3 separate regions of the Homo sapiens genome follow, and regions 1 and 2 are each linked to region 3. Evidence: fine-mapped expression QTL. A gene starts in region 3. Each other region holds a variant in brackets. All regions are shown on one strand. Distances are between the middles of the regions.

Evidence for each region.
Region 1: its variant is fine-mapped to the expression of COL23A1 in whole blood (TOPMed, PIP above 0.99).
Region 2: its variant is fine-mapped to the expression of COL23A1 in tibial nerve (GTEx, PIP 0.93).

Annotation. Positions count from the first base shown.
Region 1 is chr5:178,238,796-178,242,903 of GRCh38, forward strand. It overlaps COL23A1 (collagen type XXIII alpha 1 chain), which reads right to left. Exons shown (of 29, transcript NM_173465.4): 26 at 3,546-3,599; 27 at 3,247-3,333; 28 at 346-384. Among named protein-coding and RNA genes, the nearest start is that of PHYKPL, 8.0 kb to the left of the region's middle. RefSeq lists enhancers at 1-14, 20-69, 2,070-2,189. The variant T/C (reference allele first, on the strand shown) is at 1,846.
Region 2 is chr5:178,469,559-178,473,666 of GRCh38, forward strand. All of the region lies in intron 2 of COL23A1 (collagen type XXIII alpha 1 chain), which reads right to left. It overlaps LOC124901148 (a long non-coding RNA gene), which reads right to left and starts at 3,282. Exons shown (of 2, transcript XR_007059080.1): 1 at 1-3,282. The variant G/A (reference allele first, on the strand shown) is at 2,399.
Region 3 is chr5:178,588,159-178,592,266 of GRCh38, forward strand. It overlaps COL23A1 (collagen type XXIII alpha 1 chain), which reads right to left and starts at 2,235. Exons shown (of 29, transcript NM_173465.4): 1 at 1,746-2,235. The coding sequence starts at 2,039. RefSeq lists an enhancer at 681-1,581 and a silencer at 2,237-2,436.

The sequences.
Region 1 (4,108 bases), 350 kb before region 3:
TCCTCCTATCTTCCCTCCCCCCACTCCCTCTCAGTGGGCCAGTTGGGACAATATCCCAGGGGGCACTGATGGCTTTGCCCTGCCTGGTCCAGGTGTCAGTTGAGTCCATGTGACCCACAGGATGGGTTATACACCATCACCCAGGACCACAGCCCCACGCCTCACATGCAAGATGGGAGAGTCAAAACCAGGGTCATGATGGGAAACCTGGCTATTCAGTCACTGTGCGAGAAGCCGCAGACACCCAGAGGTTTGAGTGACAGCACCCAGGCTCTGGGGCCCTCCCATTCCCCCACCCTCCCCTGCCTCTCCCAAGCCTGCCCTGGAGACTTCCCTGCACGGTACCTTATGCCAGCAGCCAGGCACAGGCAGCCCGTCGGGGCCCTGGAAAGGAAGAAGGTTTCAGTGATGGGGATGGGGCCTGGGGAGCTCCTCTACACCCCACATGCCCTCCCCTGGTCTGTAGGGAGGTGCAGGCCAGGGAGCGGCCATGTGAGACTGCTGGGCCCCACTGAGGCAGGGGCACAATGCCTCCTCTGTCCACCCAGGTAGTGGGGTCATGGGGTCATGGGGAACGACGGCCTCTCACTGAGCTTGTCCTGAGTGTGTTCCCTCTGTGCTTTGTGGGGACTGCTGTGCAGTGGGCAGGAACAGGAGGGCACTAGGAAGGGATGAGCATTGTGCCAGACATGTACAGGCTGGCCTGGGTCCTGCCGAGAGCCGTGTGGCTTCCTGTCTGATGTGACAGTGACTCTGGCCTGGGTCCTGCCGAGAGCCGTGTGGCTTCCTGCCTGATGTGACACTGACTCTGGCCTGGGTCCTGCCGAGAGCCGTGTGGCTTCCTGCCTGATGTGACACTGACTCTGGCCTGGGTCCTGCCGAGAGCCGTGTGGCTTCCTGCCTGATGTGACACTGACTCTGGCCTGGGTCCTGCCGAGAGCCGTGTGGCTTCCTGCCTGATGTGACAGTGACTCTGGCCTGGGTCCTGCCGAGAGCCGTGTGGCTTCCTGCCTGATGTGACAGTGACTCTGGCCTGGGTCCTGCCGAGAGCCGTGTGGCTTCCTGTCTGATGTGACAGTGACTCTGGCCTGGGTCCTGCTGAGAGCCGTGTGGCTTCCTGCCTGATGTGACGGTCACTCTGGCTCCTCACCCTGGGGCCTGCGAGCTTTCAGGCCTTGGGCAGGAATGGCTCCTGGAGGGTTTTAAGGATGGCCCAGGAATTGGCATCCTGCTCCAGCCTGTGCTGGCTGGAGCAGGGCAGGCTCAGGTTGCTGGGGGTTGGGGCTGGGCCTGGGGTAGGGCTATCTAGCGGCACCTGTGGTGCCCACCCAGGAGCCAGACATAAGCAGGGGCCGGGTTTCCTCAGGCAGCCTGGAGGGTGGGGAAACTGGAGAGGAACGAAGACTGACTCATCAGGGACACCAAGGCGCAAAACATGTCATTCTGTTCCAAAGCACAGGAATGAGCCTCAGACACTGGGCATCCCCTGGAATATTCCCATGTGTACACCAGGGACCAGGCTAGGCACCAAAGGGAAGGTGGGGAGGGGGGCAGAATGGAAAGGAAGCAGAAGCGAGGAAGGCCGGGGCAGAGCCAAGGGCCCTGGCTGCCCCGAAGGCCCACACAGCACACGGCACACGGCACACAGCAGGCCAGGCCGCCTACCGCAGGGCATGGCCCATTGCCCCTCGCAGGGCCCCGCCAGCCTGGTGCCCCTCTCCGGCCTCCGCACGTGGGATTCTCCTGTTTCAAAGGAGACAAGGGCTTACTGATTTGGAGGGGAGTCCTGGGCCAGGCCCCGGAGCTGCGGGGCTGGGCCACCCTGCCCCTGCTGTCCCCGCCCTT[T/C]CTGTGCGCTGACCACTTCGCTCTTCAAGTCCTTTTCTCATTGACTTCTCAAAACTGTCCGAGGGGAGCGGTATCCCCCACTGCAGGGATAAGGACACTGAGGAACAGAGGCCAGAGGTCTGGGAGGGGGTCTCTAACTCTGGCACCGCTGGAGGTTGAGGCCGGCCTGCACACATCCCCGTGGCTGGAGTGGCCACGTCTGAATATCTGTCCAGTTTTAGTACGAAAACCCAGCTGTTCTGTTTTTCCTGTCTTTTCTGAGCTCCACCGGAAGAGTGTGACATGTAAACCCTCCCTACTTTCTAGAAAAAGGAACTAGGCAGGGCACAGTGGCTCACACCTGTCGTCCCAGCACTCTGGGAGGCTAAGGTGGGACAATCGCTTGAGCCCAGACCAGCCTGGACGACATTGCAAGACCCCAGCTCTACAAAAATTAAAAATTAGCTGGGCATGGTGGTGCATGCCTGTAGTTCTTGGCTACTTGGGAAGCTGAGGCAGGAGGATCACTTGAGCCTGGGAGATGGAGGCTGCAGTGAACCATGATCGCTCCAGCCTGGGCGACAGAGTGAGACTCTGTCTCCGAAAAGAAATAAATGGAGCTGACTTTTGAACTGTGGTTGTTTCAGGCACCAGTGCCTGAAACCACTGGGGCTGGTGGGCTGCCAAAGGCCACTGAGAGAGCACAGAAAGAGGTACAGGAAGGGTGTGGGGGTAGGCAGAGGGGATGTGGGGAAGAGGGAGGTGCTGCCCCAGCCCAGAGAGACTCTTCTGGGAAGGAGGAAGGAAGGGGAGGCACAGCCAGCCAGAGAGGTCAGGGTGGTCCCACCGTCTGTGCTTGGGGAAGCTGAGTTTCAGCTCAGCTTGGCCTCAGGCCCAGTGGGAGTCAGACCCCGACTTCCACCCCAGGCAGCCAGACCACAGCGATGGGGCTGGGCACTCACTGCCTCCGCCCCCAGCGGCAGCGTGTCTGTGCTAACTTTGGTTCCCTCCGCAGGGCCCAGCCCCCTCCCAGGGCACCGCTGATGGTGCTGATGACTCCAGGTAAAGCCCCTCCACTCCTGGTCTAGGCCCTGTCCACTTCCAGCCCAAGATGGCCCACAGTGGGTTCCTACTCAAGCCAGGCCTGTCCTGGGGGTGAAGAATGAGGGGCTGGGCCTCCAGCTCTACAGAGGGGCTGGGTTCCCTGAGTCATGCCCATGGTTGGGGGTGGTTAGGACCAGAGCAAGGGGAACCGCGATGATGGCAGTAGCAGCAGCAGTGGCCCTGACAGTGAGGAAGGCCAGTGCGTGACCAGTGGGGCCTCTGGGACTTGCAGCTGAGTTCCGAGGACAGGGAAGATGTTGGGCTGACCCTGGCTGGAGGCCAAAAAGACCTGGGGCAGGGCCCTCCTCCGACACCTACCACGGGACACGGCTGGTCCAGGCCTGGTGGTCCCGGCTCGCCCTTCTGGCCCTTCACTCCTTTCCGGCCGGGGACCCCTCGTTCTCCCTGTGCAGGAGGGGAGATGGTGGTATTGGTCATGGCTGCCAGGCTTAGGAACCTCCAACATCTCTCCGAGAGAAGCGCGTGGGGCCAGCCTCCCCCTGCCTCCGCCCACCTGCCCGGCCTGGGTTCTCTCTACCTGCTTCACCTGAGCCTCCACTCCCACCTGCCTCCTTCCCCCTCTCCTCCTGCCCCAGCTCCCGTCCAGCTGCCCTCACCTTCTCTCCACGCTCGCTCCGATCACCTTTCTCTCCTCGGGGTCCAGGGAAACCCTGACAAAAGGATTAGATGCTAAACCCGAAAATGAGGCTGGAGGTTTGCCCCTCTGTTACCGGCTCATCTCTGTTCCTCTCCCATCCACACGCCCACTTTCCCCCCTGCATATTCGTGGCACACGCTGGCCTAGCCCTAGCTGTAGGTGATACACTGCTGGGTACAAGGCTGATGTAGGAAGAGCATGCATTTACGATGCCAGCTGGGCTTGCTCCAAAGTAGTCGCTGGACACCAACACTCAGGCAGAGCTGCTGGCAAGGGGCTGTCTCTCACATCACAGACGCGGCTGGCACTGGTCTAGGCTTGGCTGGGGACAGAGACCCCGGAAACCATGGAAGTTATGTCACTGTCTGATGGGATGAGAAATGGTGATCTCTGTTCTGTGCCCTTGGCTCAACTTCCTGCACACCCATCTGTCCATTCATCTATCTGTCCGTCCACCCAACCAAGGTGGCTTAACATCCACTAGGAACCGGGCTGTTGGCTGGACACTGGGGACACAGAATT
Region 2 (4,108 bases), 120 kb before region 3:
CCGGGGAAAGACCACAGCTGAGCACTCTCGGGGGAGCTGGGCTCCCCCGGGCAGCTGGCAGCTGGGACCTGCCTTCATGTCCAACCACATTTCTGATGGAGCCCAGGGGACTTCCGCCAGTACCTCCCCTCTTCAGAGAGCCCCCGTCCTGTCTGCAGAGCCATCAAGAGGACCCTCGCCGAGGGAAGCTGCCTGCCGCTGGTGATAACCAGAATCGGTCGTGGGGAGGAGGTGGCCATTCCCCCTGAAAGTCCTAATGGTCTCGCAGGGTCGGGCCACGGAACCGTCTCCAACCACTCATCCCCTGTGCAGAGGCCAGAAGGGAGCTTTCGTCATGCTAACTGGGTTTGATTTTTATCTTCCCAGGCACCTCCTCTCACTGGTCTTTCTCATGGCAATCATCACAGTTCATTTAAAAGTATTTCCACCCCATTTGTCTACCGGTGCAAGCAGTCACTCTAGCCAGCTAAATCAGTCCCTTTAAAACTTTATCTTGCTAATTCCAAAGTACTCCATCATCTCCATATCCAGACACTGAGAGGCTCAGCCTGCAGACATCTGCCTAACAGAGCAGCTGGCGGGCTAAACACATAAATTAATGCAAAGTCCTGGTTGGTCAACACCTGGTGCAGCTCTTCCTCCAGGCACTTCTCAGGGACGAAGCTTGCTTTGAGCTGGCCATCCAGCGTCTGTCCCTCCTGGTCCGCTACCGTGAGCTCTTGACTCCACCTGGCTCCACGCCCCCTGCCCCATGTCTTCCCTTAGCCAGGAGCCAGTGTCCTTGGGCAAGCACAGTGCCCATAAGCCGAGCAGACCCCTGGAAACCCACCGCCAATTAGAACTGTTCCTCACTGGAAAGACTGCCTAGACAAACCACCTAAAACCCAGGACGTGAGGACTCCCAGCTCCCCACCCAGACCCCAGCCAGAAGCCACGGCAAGCCGTCAGTGTCGAGCAGAGGGCCCCTGCAGGAAGACTGGGAAGGTCTAAATCTAAGCTCATTAACAGGCCAGAGGGTGAGAGAGAACACAGAGGTGCAAGACAGGGAGGGGATGGAAGCCAGCACGTGGGTCAAAGACGAGGCCATGGGGGAAACACCCGCTCATACGACACAAGCATCCTGCCTGCTGGGCTGGAAATCCCGAAATTTCCCCAGTATTCCTGGAAGCATCAAGGCTCCCACAGAATACAGTGGCACTTCCCATAAGACACTGGACCCAGATACCTCCTGTCTCAAGGAGCCCACCGCCTCCAGGGCCCCACTGAGCGGCCGTTCATGCTGAGAGCTGCGCTGGAGAAGCCTGTGTGAAGGCTGCTGCGGTCACCTGGGAACCCTCAGGAGCCCCAGAGTGTGCACTTTTGTCCATTCCTAAATATTCCTTCCATAGACTTACTGTGAAGATCCAACCAGACCCTCTGAGCTTTGCTAACTTTCAGCTCTGTGCAGTGCACGAAGTGGTTCTGAAAAAGCATCTGCTCCAGTGCCTGGCTGCCTTGGGATCACCTGGGGATTCCTCGTGTATTGGTCAGGTCCCTGCAGGAAACAGAGGGCACCCCAATGGCTAATTTGCAGAGCAGTTAAGAGAGAGTTACTCAGGAAGCTGTGCACAAGGGACAGTGCAGTTCCCAGAGGTTGGAACAGTGGGTGCATTTATCACCCCTGAGTAATCATGCGTTTTATGTTTTCTTTCTTTTTTTTTGAGACAGAGTCTCGCTCTTGTCACCCAGGCTGGAGTGCAGTGGTGCGATCTCAGCTCACTGAAAGCTCAGCCTCCTGGGTTCAAGTGATTCTCCTGCCTCAGCCTCCTGAGTAGCTGGGATTACAGGCACCCACCACACCTGGCTAATTTTTGTATTTTTAGTAGAGATGGGGTTTCGCCATGTTGGCCAGGTTGGTCTTGAACTCCTGACCTCAGGTGATCTACCCGCCTCGGCCTCCCAAAGTGCTCGGATTACGGGTGTGAGCCACTGTGCCTTGGCCTGCTTTTTATATTTTCTGATGCTGTGAAACATCTCTGGGCCTTGCTGGCCAGGGAGAGACTCCCTTCCTGGGGCTAGCTAACTCCTAGAGATAGCAAGCACCTTGCCTTTGGACCTGCCTCTCCCTATCAAACCAACCAAGCCAAAGCTGTGCCCCAACCACCCGCTTTATGTAACTCTCACACCCCTGCCCTCATCACCCATGGGCCAGGTATGTGACAGCTAGAGACCAGCCCTGTAGCCCAGAGCCCACTGGAATTATTTGAACTGGCCAATCCGAACCCTGCTCAGCTTGCCTCGCCCCTCCCTTCCCACAGTCCATGCCCCAGCTCCTTCCACCCCCTGACTGACTCCGGTGCTTCCCCATATGGTCCTGTTGTGCTGTCGAATCGTCAGTAAGAAACTCTTCTTTCAAGCA[G/A]TTGTCTCCATGGTTGTCATCTTAATCCATGGCTGATTAAAATCCTGGGTGCAGGCCGGGCCTGGTGGCTCACACCTCTAATCCCGGTGCTGTGGGAGCTCAAGGAGGGAGGATGGCTTGACCTGGGGAGGTCGAGGCTGCAGTGAGCTATGATCATGCCAGGGCAACAGCGTGAGACCCTGTCTTAAATAAAAATCCTGGGTATTGTTTAAAACAACCCCAAGGACTGCAGGCGCTGAAGAGAGGAAGCTGCATGGAAAAGCTGTGGGAAAGGGGCTTGAAGGAACATCCCTTTGCTGATCCATCCTGACTCTCAGTCGAATCAACTGAGACCCAATGGGGAGCCACAGTCTATCCCAATGTGCACTTTTGTCCCAATGGGGAGTCAGCCTCCTGGGGCCCAGAGCAGGTGGATAAGGGTGTGGGGCGCACCTGGAGGAGCAAGTGAGGTGCCAGCATGCTTTGGTTCTACTCCAAGAAAGTCTGATTCCGGAGTTCTTGGATGGGGCCCAGTAATTTTTCTTAAATGCTTCCCAGCTATTTCTGATGCACAGTCAGATATGGCTTATACATTATGAAAGGTAAGGCACTGTCAATATTAATAATATTAGCAACGGCTGCAGCAGCATCCATGGGTGCCAGGTGCTTATAATGCATCAGTCCTAATTTCCACCCCTTAAAGGTAAGTGTTAGTATTCCCATTTTGTAGATGGGAAATGTGAGGCTCTGGCTGCTTAAGTGACTTGCCCAGCATCGCACAGCTTGTCAGTGGAAGAGCTGGGATTTTTATCCAAAAGCCAGTGAACAGTCAGCCCTCCATATCCATGGATTCCACATCCACGGTCTCAACCAACCGCAGATTGAAAATATTTTTAAAAAATACACAGGCAGGACACAGTGGCTCATGTCTGTAATCCCAACACTTTGGGAGGCTGAGGCAGAAGGGTTGCTTGAGCCTGGGAGTTCAAGACCAGCCTGGACAACAGAGTGAGACTCTATCTCTACAAAAATTAAAAAATTAGCGGATGTGGTCACACGCACCTGTGATCCGAACTACTCAGGAAGCTGAGGCGAGAGGATCGCTTGAGCCCAGGAGGTCAAGGCTGCAGTGAGCTGTGACTGTGCCACTGCACTCCAGCCTGGGTGACAGAGCAAGACTCTCTTCGCCATCCCCCCAAAAAAAATCATAATAAAAATCACAACACAACAAAAAATCATACAAATAAAAATACAGTAGAACAATATTTACATAGCTTTCACACTGTATCAGGTATTATAAGTAATCTAGAGACTTAAAGTATGAGGGAGGATGTACTTAGGTTAAATGCAAGTACACGCCATTTGACTTTATTTTTGTAGAGACGGTCTCACTCTGTCACCCAGGCTGGAGTGCAGTGGCACAATCACAGCTCACTGCAGCTTTGACCTCCCAGGCCCAAATGACCCTCCTACCTCAGCCTCCAGAGTAGCTGGGACTACAGGCATGAGCCACTACATCCGGCTAATTTTTTTTTTTTTTTTTTTTTTTGGTATTTTTTGTGAAGATGGGGTTTTGCCATGTTGCCCAGGCTGGTCTTGAACTCCTGGGCTCAAGCAAACCACCCACTTCAGCCTCCCTGAGTGCTGGGATTATACTATGCCATTTTATATGAGGGATTTGAGCATCTCTGGATTTGGGTACCTATGAGGGATCCTGGAACCAATGCCCTG
Region 3 (4,108 bases):
ATAACTCATTGTTCAAGCACTGTAGTTCACCCAGGTAAAATTCAGTGCAGCCGGGAGGGGGGAAGCCTGGGAGAGCAACTGCAGTCTCTCCCGCTGAAGTTCAGGACTCAAAAATCAACACTTCCCAGCAGTGGCTGCCTGCCCAGGATGCCCCTCCCTCCTAAAATAGACACAATTTGTAGTTCCTTGTAAAATGGTTGTATCAGGACTTCTGATTTACTCAATCAGGGCTTGCGGTTTATTTTTAGCAAATAAGAGAGGCCTCCTATGAGAAAGAGCAGCCACACTTATAGCGCTAACAGGTAGAAACTTTACTGGCCCTCTATAAATCAATTCAACACCCTGGTCTCCAGGCATTTGCCAAAAGCTAATGGGCGGCAATTATGAAACCATCGCCAGGAGTTTCCAGCAGGGCTGAGAGAGAGTTTTAAGTCTGCAGGCCCTTTCAAGGGTAAAATAGGAAATCATTTCATGAAGCAGCAATTTTACCCAGAACCCAGCTAGAAGAGATGTGATCCTAGCTTAAATTAAAGTGACTAAGAAACAGGTGGGGTGAACAAGGAGGTGTGGTACGCAAGTCATCTTCTCCCACTTTCCTTTGGAATCCAAAGGAACTCAACATTGGAAACACAGCTGGATACGTTAATAAAGATCCCAGCTGGGCAGTCTAGGGAATTGGGGGTGTACAGGCCAGTGCTCCCTCTCCTCCACCTTGAAACCCTGCCTGTTTTCACACAGCAATTGAGGATGCGCCCTTGGACAGCGACCTTGGGGTCTGGAGCAGCCATCTATCCCAGGAGAAGGAGGAAGGCTCGGCAGGGGAGGCTCTGGCCAGCCCACCAGGGCCTGTCCAGTTTCGTGGGGAGGGGAACTGCCGCACATGCCGCACACAAAAGGCGGAGGCTTTGACCAACATGCTGGGTGAGGGCTTGGAGGACCCAAAGGTGGCTCTTTCTTTGAAGACACACAGCAGCAATCTTAACCCTTAGAAGTGTCACAGAGCCTCATATGAGCTTTCAAGTAAGCTGTGGAAGTCGCGATTCCCAGGTAAGGGACGGGAAACTCCGGATGTCCTGCGAGCCCACACCCCAGATGGCACCGCCTGAAACCAGAATCCAGGTCCTCCACCCCCGATTGTTTCTCCTTCCTCTCATCTTACCAAGTCATGTGGGCGCCCCCACCCCCATCCCCGAGGCCTCAGTGCGACGGTGACCGCTCAGTCTTGGGGCCTGAGCTGCTGGAGACACACTGGAGCACAGCGGGGCCCAGCCCTCGGGCCTGTCTGAGGCTTTCCTCCGCCGTGACCACCGCCTCTCCAGGTGTACCAGCGTTGGTTAGGAACAGTAGGTGCTACTGGTCACAGTCACCAGATACTTCCCACGAGCCTCATCTTTATCCCCGACTCTGGCCGCCGGCGGGAAGCGGCGTGTCCGAGCGCACACCCCGTGGAGACTGACCCTAGGTCTGTTACTCCAAAGTCCCTGGTCTCTCCTTCCCCTTTCTCGCGGCCGCCTGCCTGGCACGGGACCCTGAGGCCGGAGCGGAGACCGCAAAACCCCTTGGGGCCGGCACCCCCTGCCTCCGCCTTGGCGCAGACGTGCCCATCTCTGGGACGGCCCCGAGCGCACGCAGCCGGCGGGCGACCCTCCTCCCAGAGACCTGCACGCTGCCCCCGGCTCCCAGCGTACCGCCACCCTCAACCCGACACACCCAAGTCCGCCCCAGCCACGCGCCAAGACGCTCACCTCCCGCAGCAGGCGCTCCAGGTGCGGCTCGGCCCAGGCGTCCAGGGCGCCTGGCGGCCCCGCGCGCCGCAGCAGCTCCCGCTCCTCCTCGAGCGCCGCCACCCGGCCCTGCAGCGCGGCCGCCTGGACACCCAGCAGCAGGCAGGCAGCCGCCGAGCCCACGGAGAGCAGCAGGCACAGCGCGCTCACCGCCCGGGACCCGGCCGTCGTCGCCGAGCGCCCTCCGCCGCCGCCGCCCGCCGCATTGCCCTTCCCCGCGTCGCCGCCGCCACCGGCGCGCTCGCCTGGGCCCATGGCGCGTTCGTCGCGCGTGGACTCTCCGAGGGGGCGGTGCTGCTGGGGCAGAGGCTGGGTGCGAGAGGAGCAGGCGGGACAGCCCGAGGCACGAGGTCCGCCGGGCGCGGGGGTTAGCCTCCGGGTAGCAGCGGATCGCCGCGCACGCCCCCTTCGCCGCAGCCAGCTCCTCCACAGCGGCCACTTTGGGCAGTTTCCTCTATGCAAATAGACCCTGCCAGAAAAGGAGCAGGGACCCACCCAGGGGAGGAGCGGCCGGGCTGGCCCCGCGCGGCGAGGGGGCGGGGGCGAGGAAGGAGCGAGCTCCTCGGAGCCACCCGTCGGCGCCGGGCTGATCCCACGCGCAGCGCGCACCTCTGCCCTCACCTAGCCCGGGCGCCGGCACCCGCCCCCGCACGCACCTCTGAGGCTTCCCCAGCCCAAGCCCGCACTGTGGACCCCAGAGGTCGGAGGGGAGCCCGGCGACACCGCGCCCCTTCTGCAGCCCACCCCTGGCTGGAGCACCCACCACTCGTGCCTTAGCACATTCCTCTAAACTTGTGAATTACCTTTCTGACACTTGTAAAAGTTCAAAACTTCAAATCCTGCAAAAAACTGAGTGGGTCTGTCCTCGGTGGTGGATTAGCGCCGCTTCGTGGCGGAAAGCGACCTCTGCGCACTCACATTTAGAGAGGCAGGGTCGAGATTGCGCCAAACAGAAATACGCCCCTTAGAATCTTCTCACGAGTTCTTAGCTGCCGGACTTCGGTGCGGGAAACAAAAATGGTAAGACTGTTTCTGGCCTGGAGAGGGCTTTTGAGAAAACTGAGACTATAACGAATGGGAAAGATTCAGAAAATGAACTTCAAGTCTTGTTCAACTGATGACTTAATTCTGTATTAGACGCACAACTTGGCCAAAAATTATGATCTAGTATGCACCACACTTAACCTGTACTGCGATTCTGCTGCAAATTTAAATCACAGGGCTGAGGCAAGAAGGCTGTGGCGTACAGCCTGGGTCCAGAGAACAGAATGAGTGGCACTAACAAGTCTTGGCAGGAAAGGGAAGAACTGCTGGAAGTCAGGCTGGGTTCAGATTCCTACCAGGCATATTCATGTCCTAAATGGGTCCCAAGTAACTCTTTCGCTAACTCCTGTAATACCTAAATGAAACAACAAACCAGCAGTTCAGATCTTTGTGATTTGAGTAACCCCCCAACCATTTTTTTTTAAGAAAAATAACGTTATATCCATCTTCCCTCTCACTCTGGATATCTTCTGGTTGTCTCATTTCTGTGGATACTCACCTTTTAGAACTGTTGAGTGCCTCTGGCTAACATGTTCCATCTCCTTCCCTTAATTCAGAGGGGAACCCCTGAGATGGCCGGGGGTTATGGTTGATAGACTTGGCTCTGTGCTAAAGTCTGGTGTATGCCCAATAGAATGAAAAGTTGGCCTCATTCTGAAAAGAGGCCAACACCCTCTTACAAGTCAGCACTACATTTCTTACAGGCACATAAACTGCACACCACCTACCTATGTTAATGTTACTGCATGTATTGTTTGCCATGTTCCTGAAGCTTCTGTGTATTGAAAAAGCCAAGCTCACTGGCCCCTGGGCCTCTGCCCTTGCCTACCACCTCACTACCTGCATTCCTGCTCTCAGATCGTTAAACGGCAAGCCCCTCCTCATCCTCCAGGTCAAGGTCCTCAACCTCACTGCTTCTAAAAGATCTTCCCAGACTGCCCAATTTAAGGTGGCCCACAAGATTAATCAGGGAATTGGGGCGGCTGAATTAAGATGGAAATACTGTCTGCAACTCATTCTAAAAGGCGAAAAAGAAAATGACTTACTTGTGTCCATTAGGGTCCTGGAAGAATAGATGGCATCCTCAGAGAGGGTGACTCAAGACAGCCTGAATGTAGAGCCACTTCACAAAGTGGAGATCAGAGGGGCCAGCAGGGGAGGCCGAAGCAGCACTCTGCGGGTATTGACAGTGGGAGGCCATTACCATCCCTAACTGGGAACCCTGGGGAACTTGGAGCTATAGAAGAGGGCTGCTCCACAGCACCTGTGGCCCTTGGTTA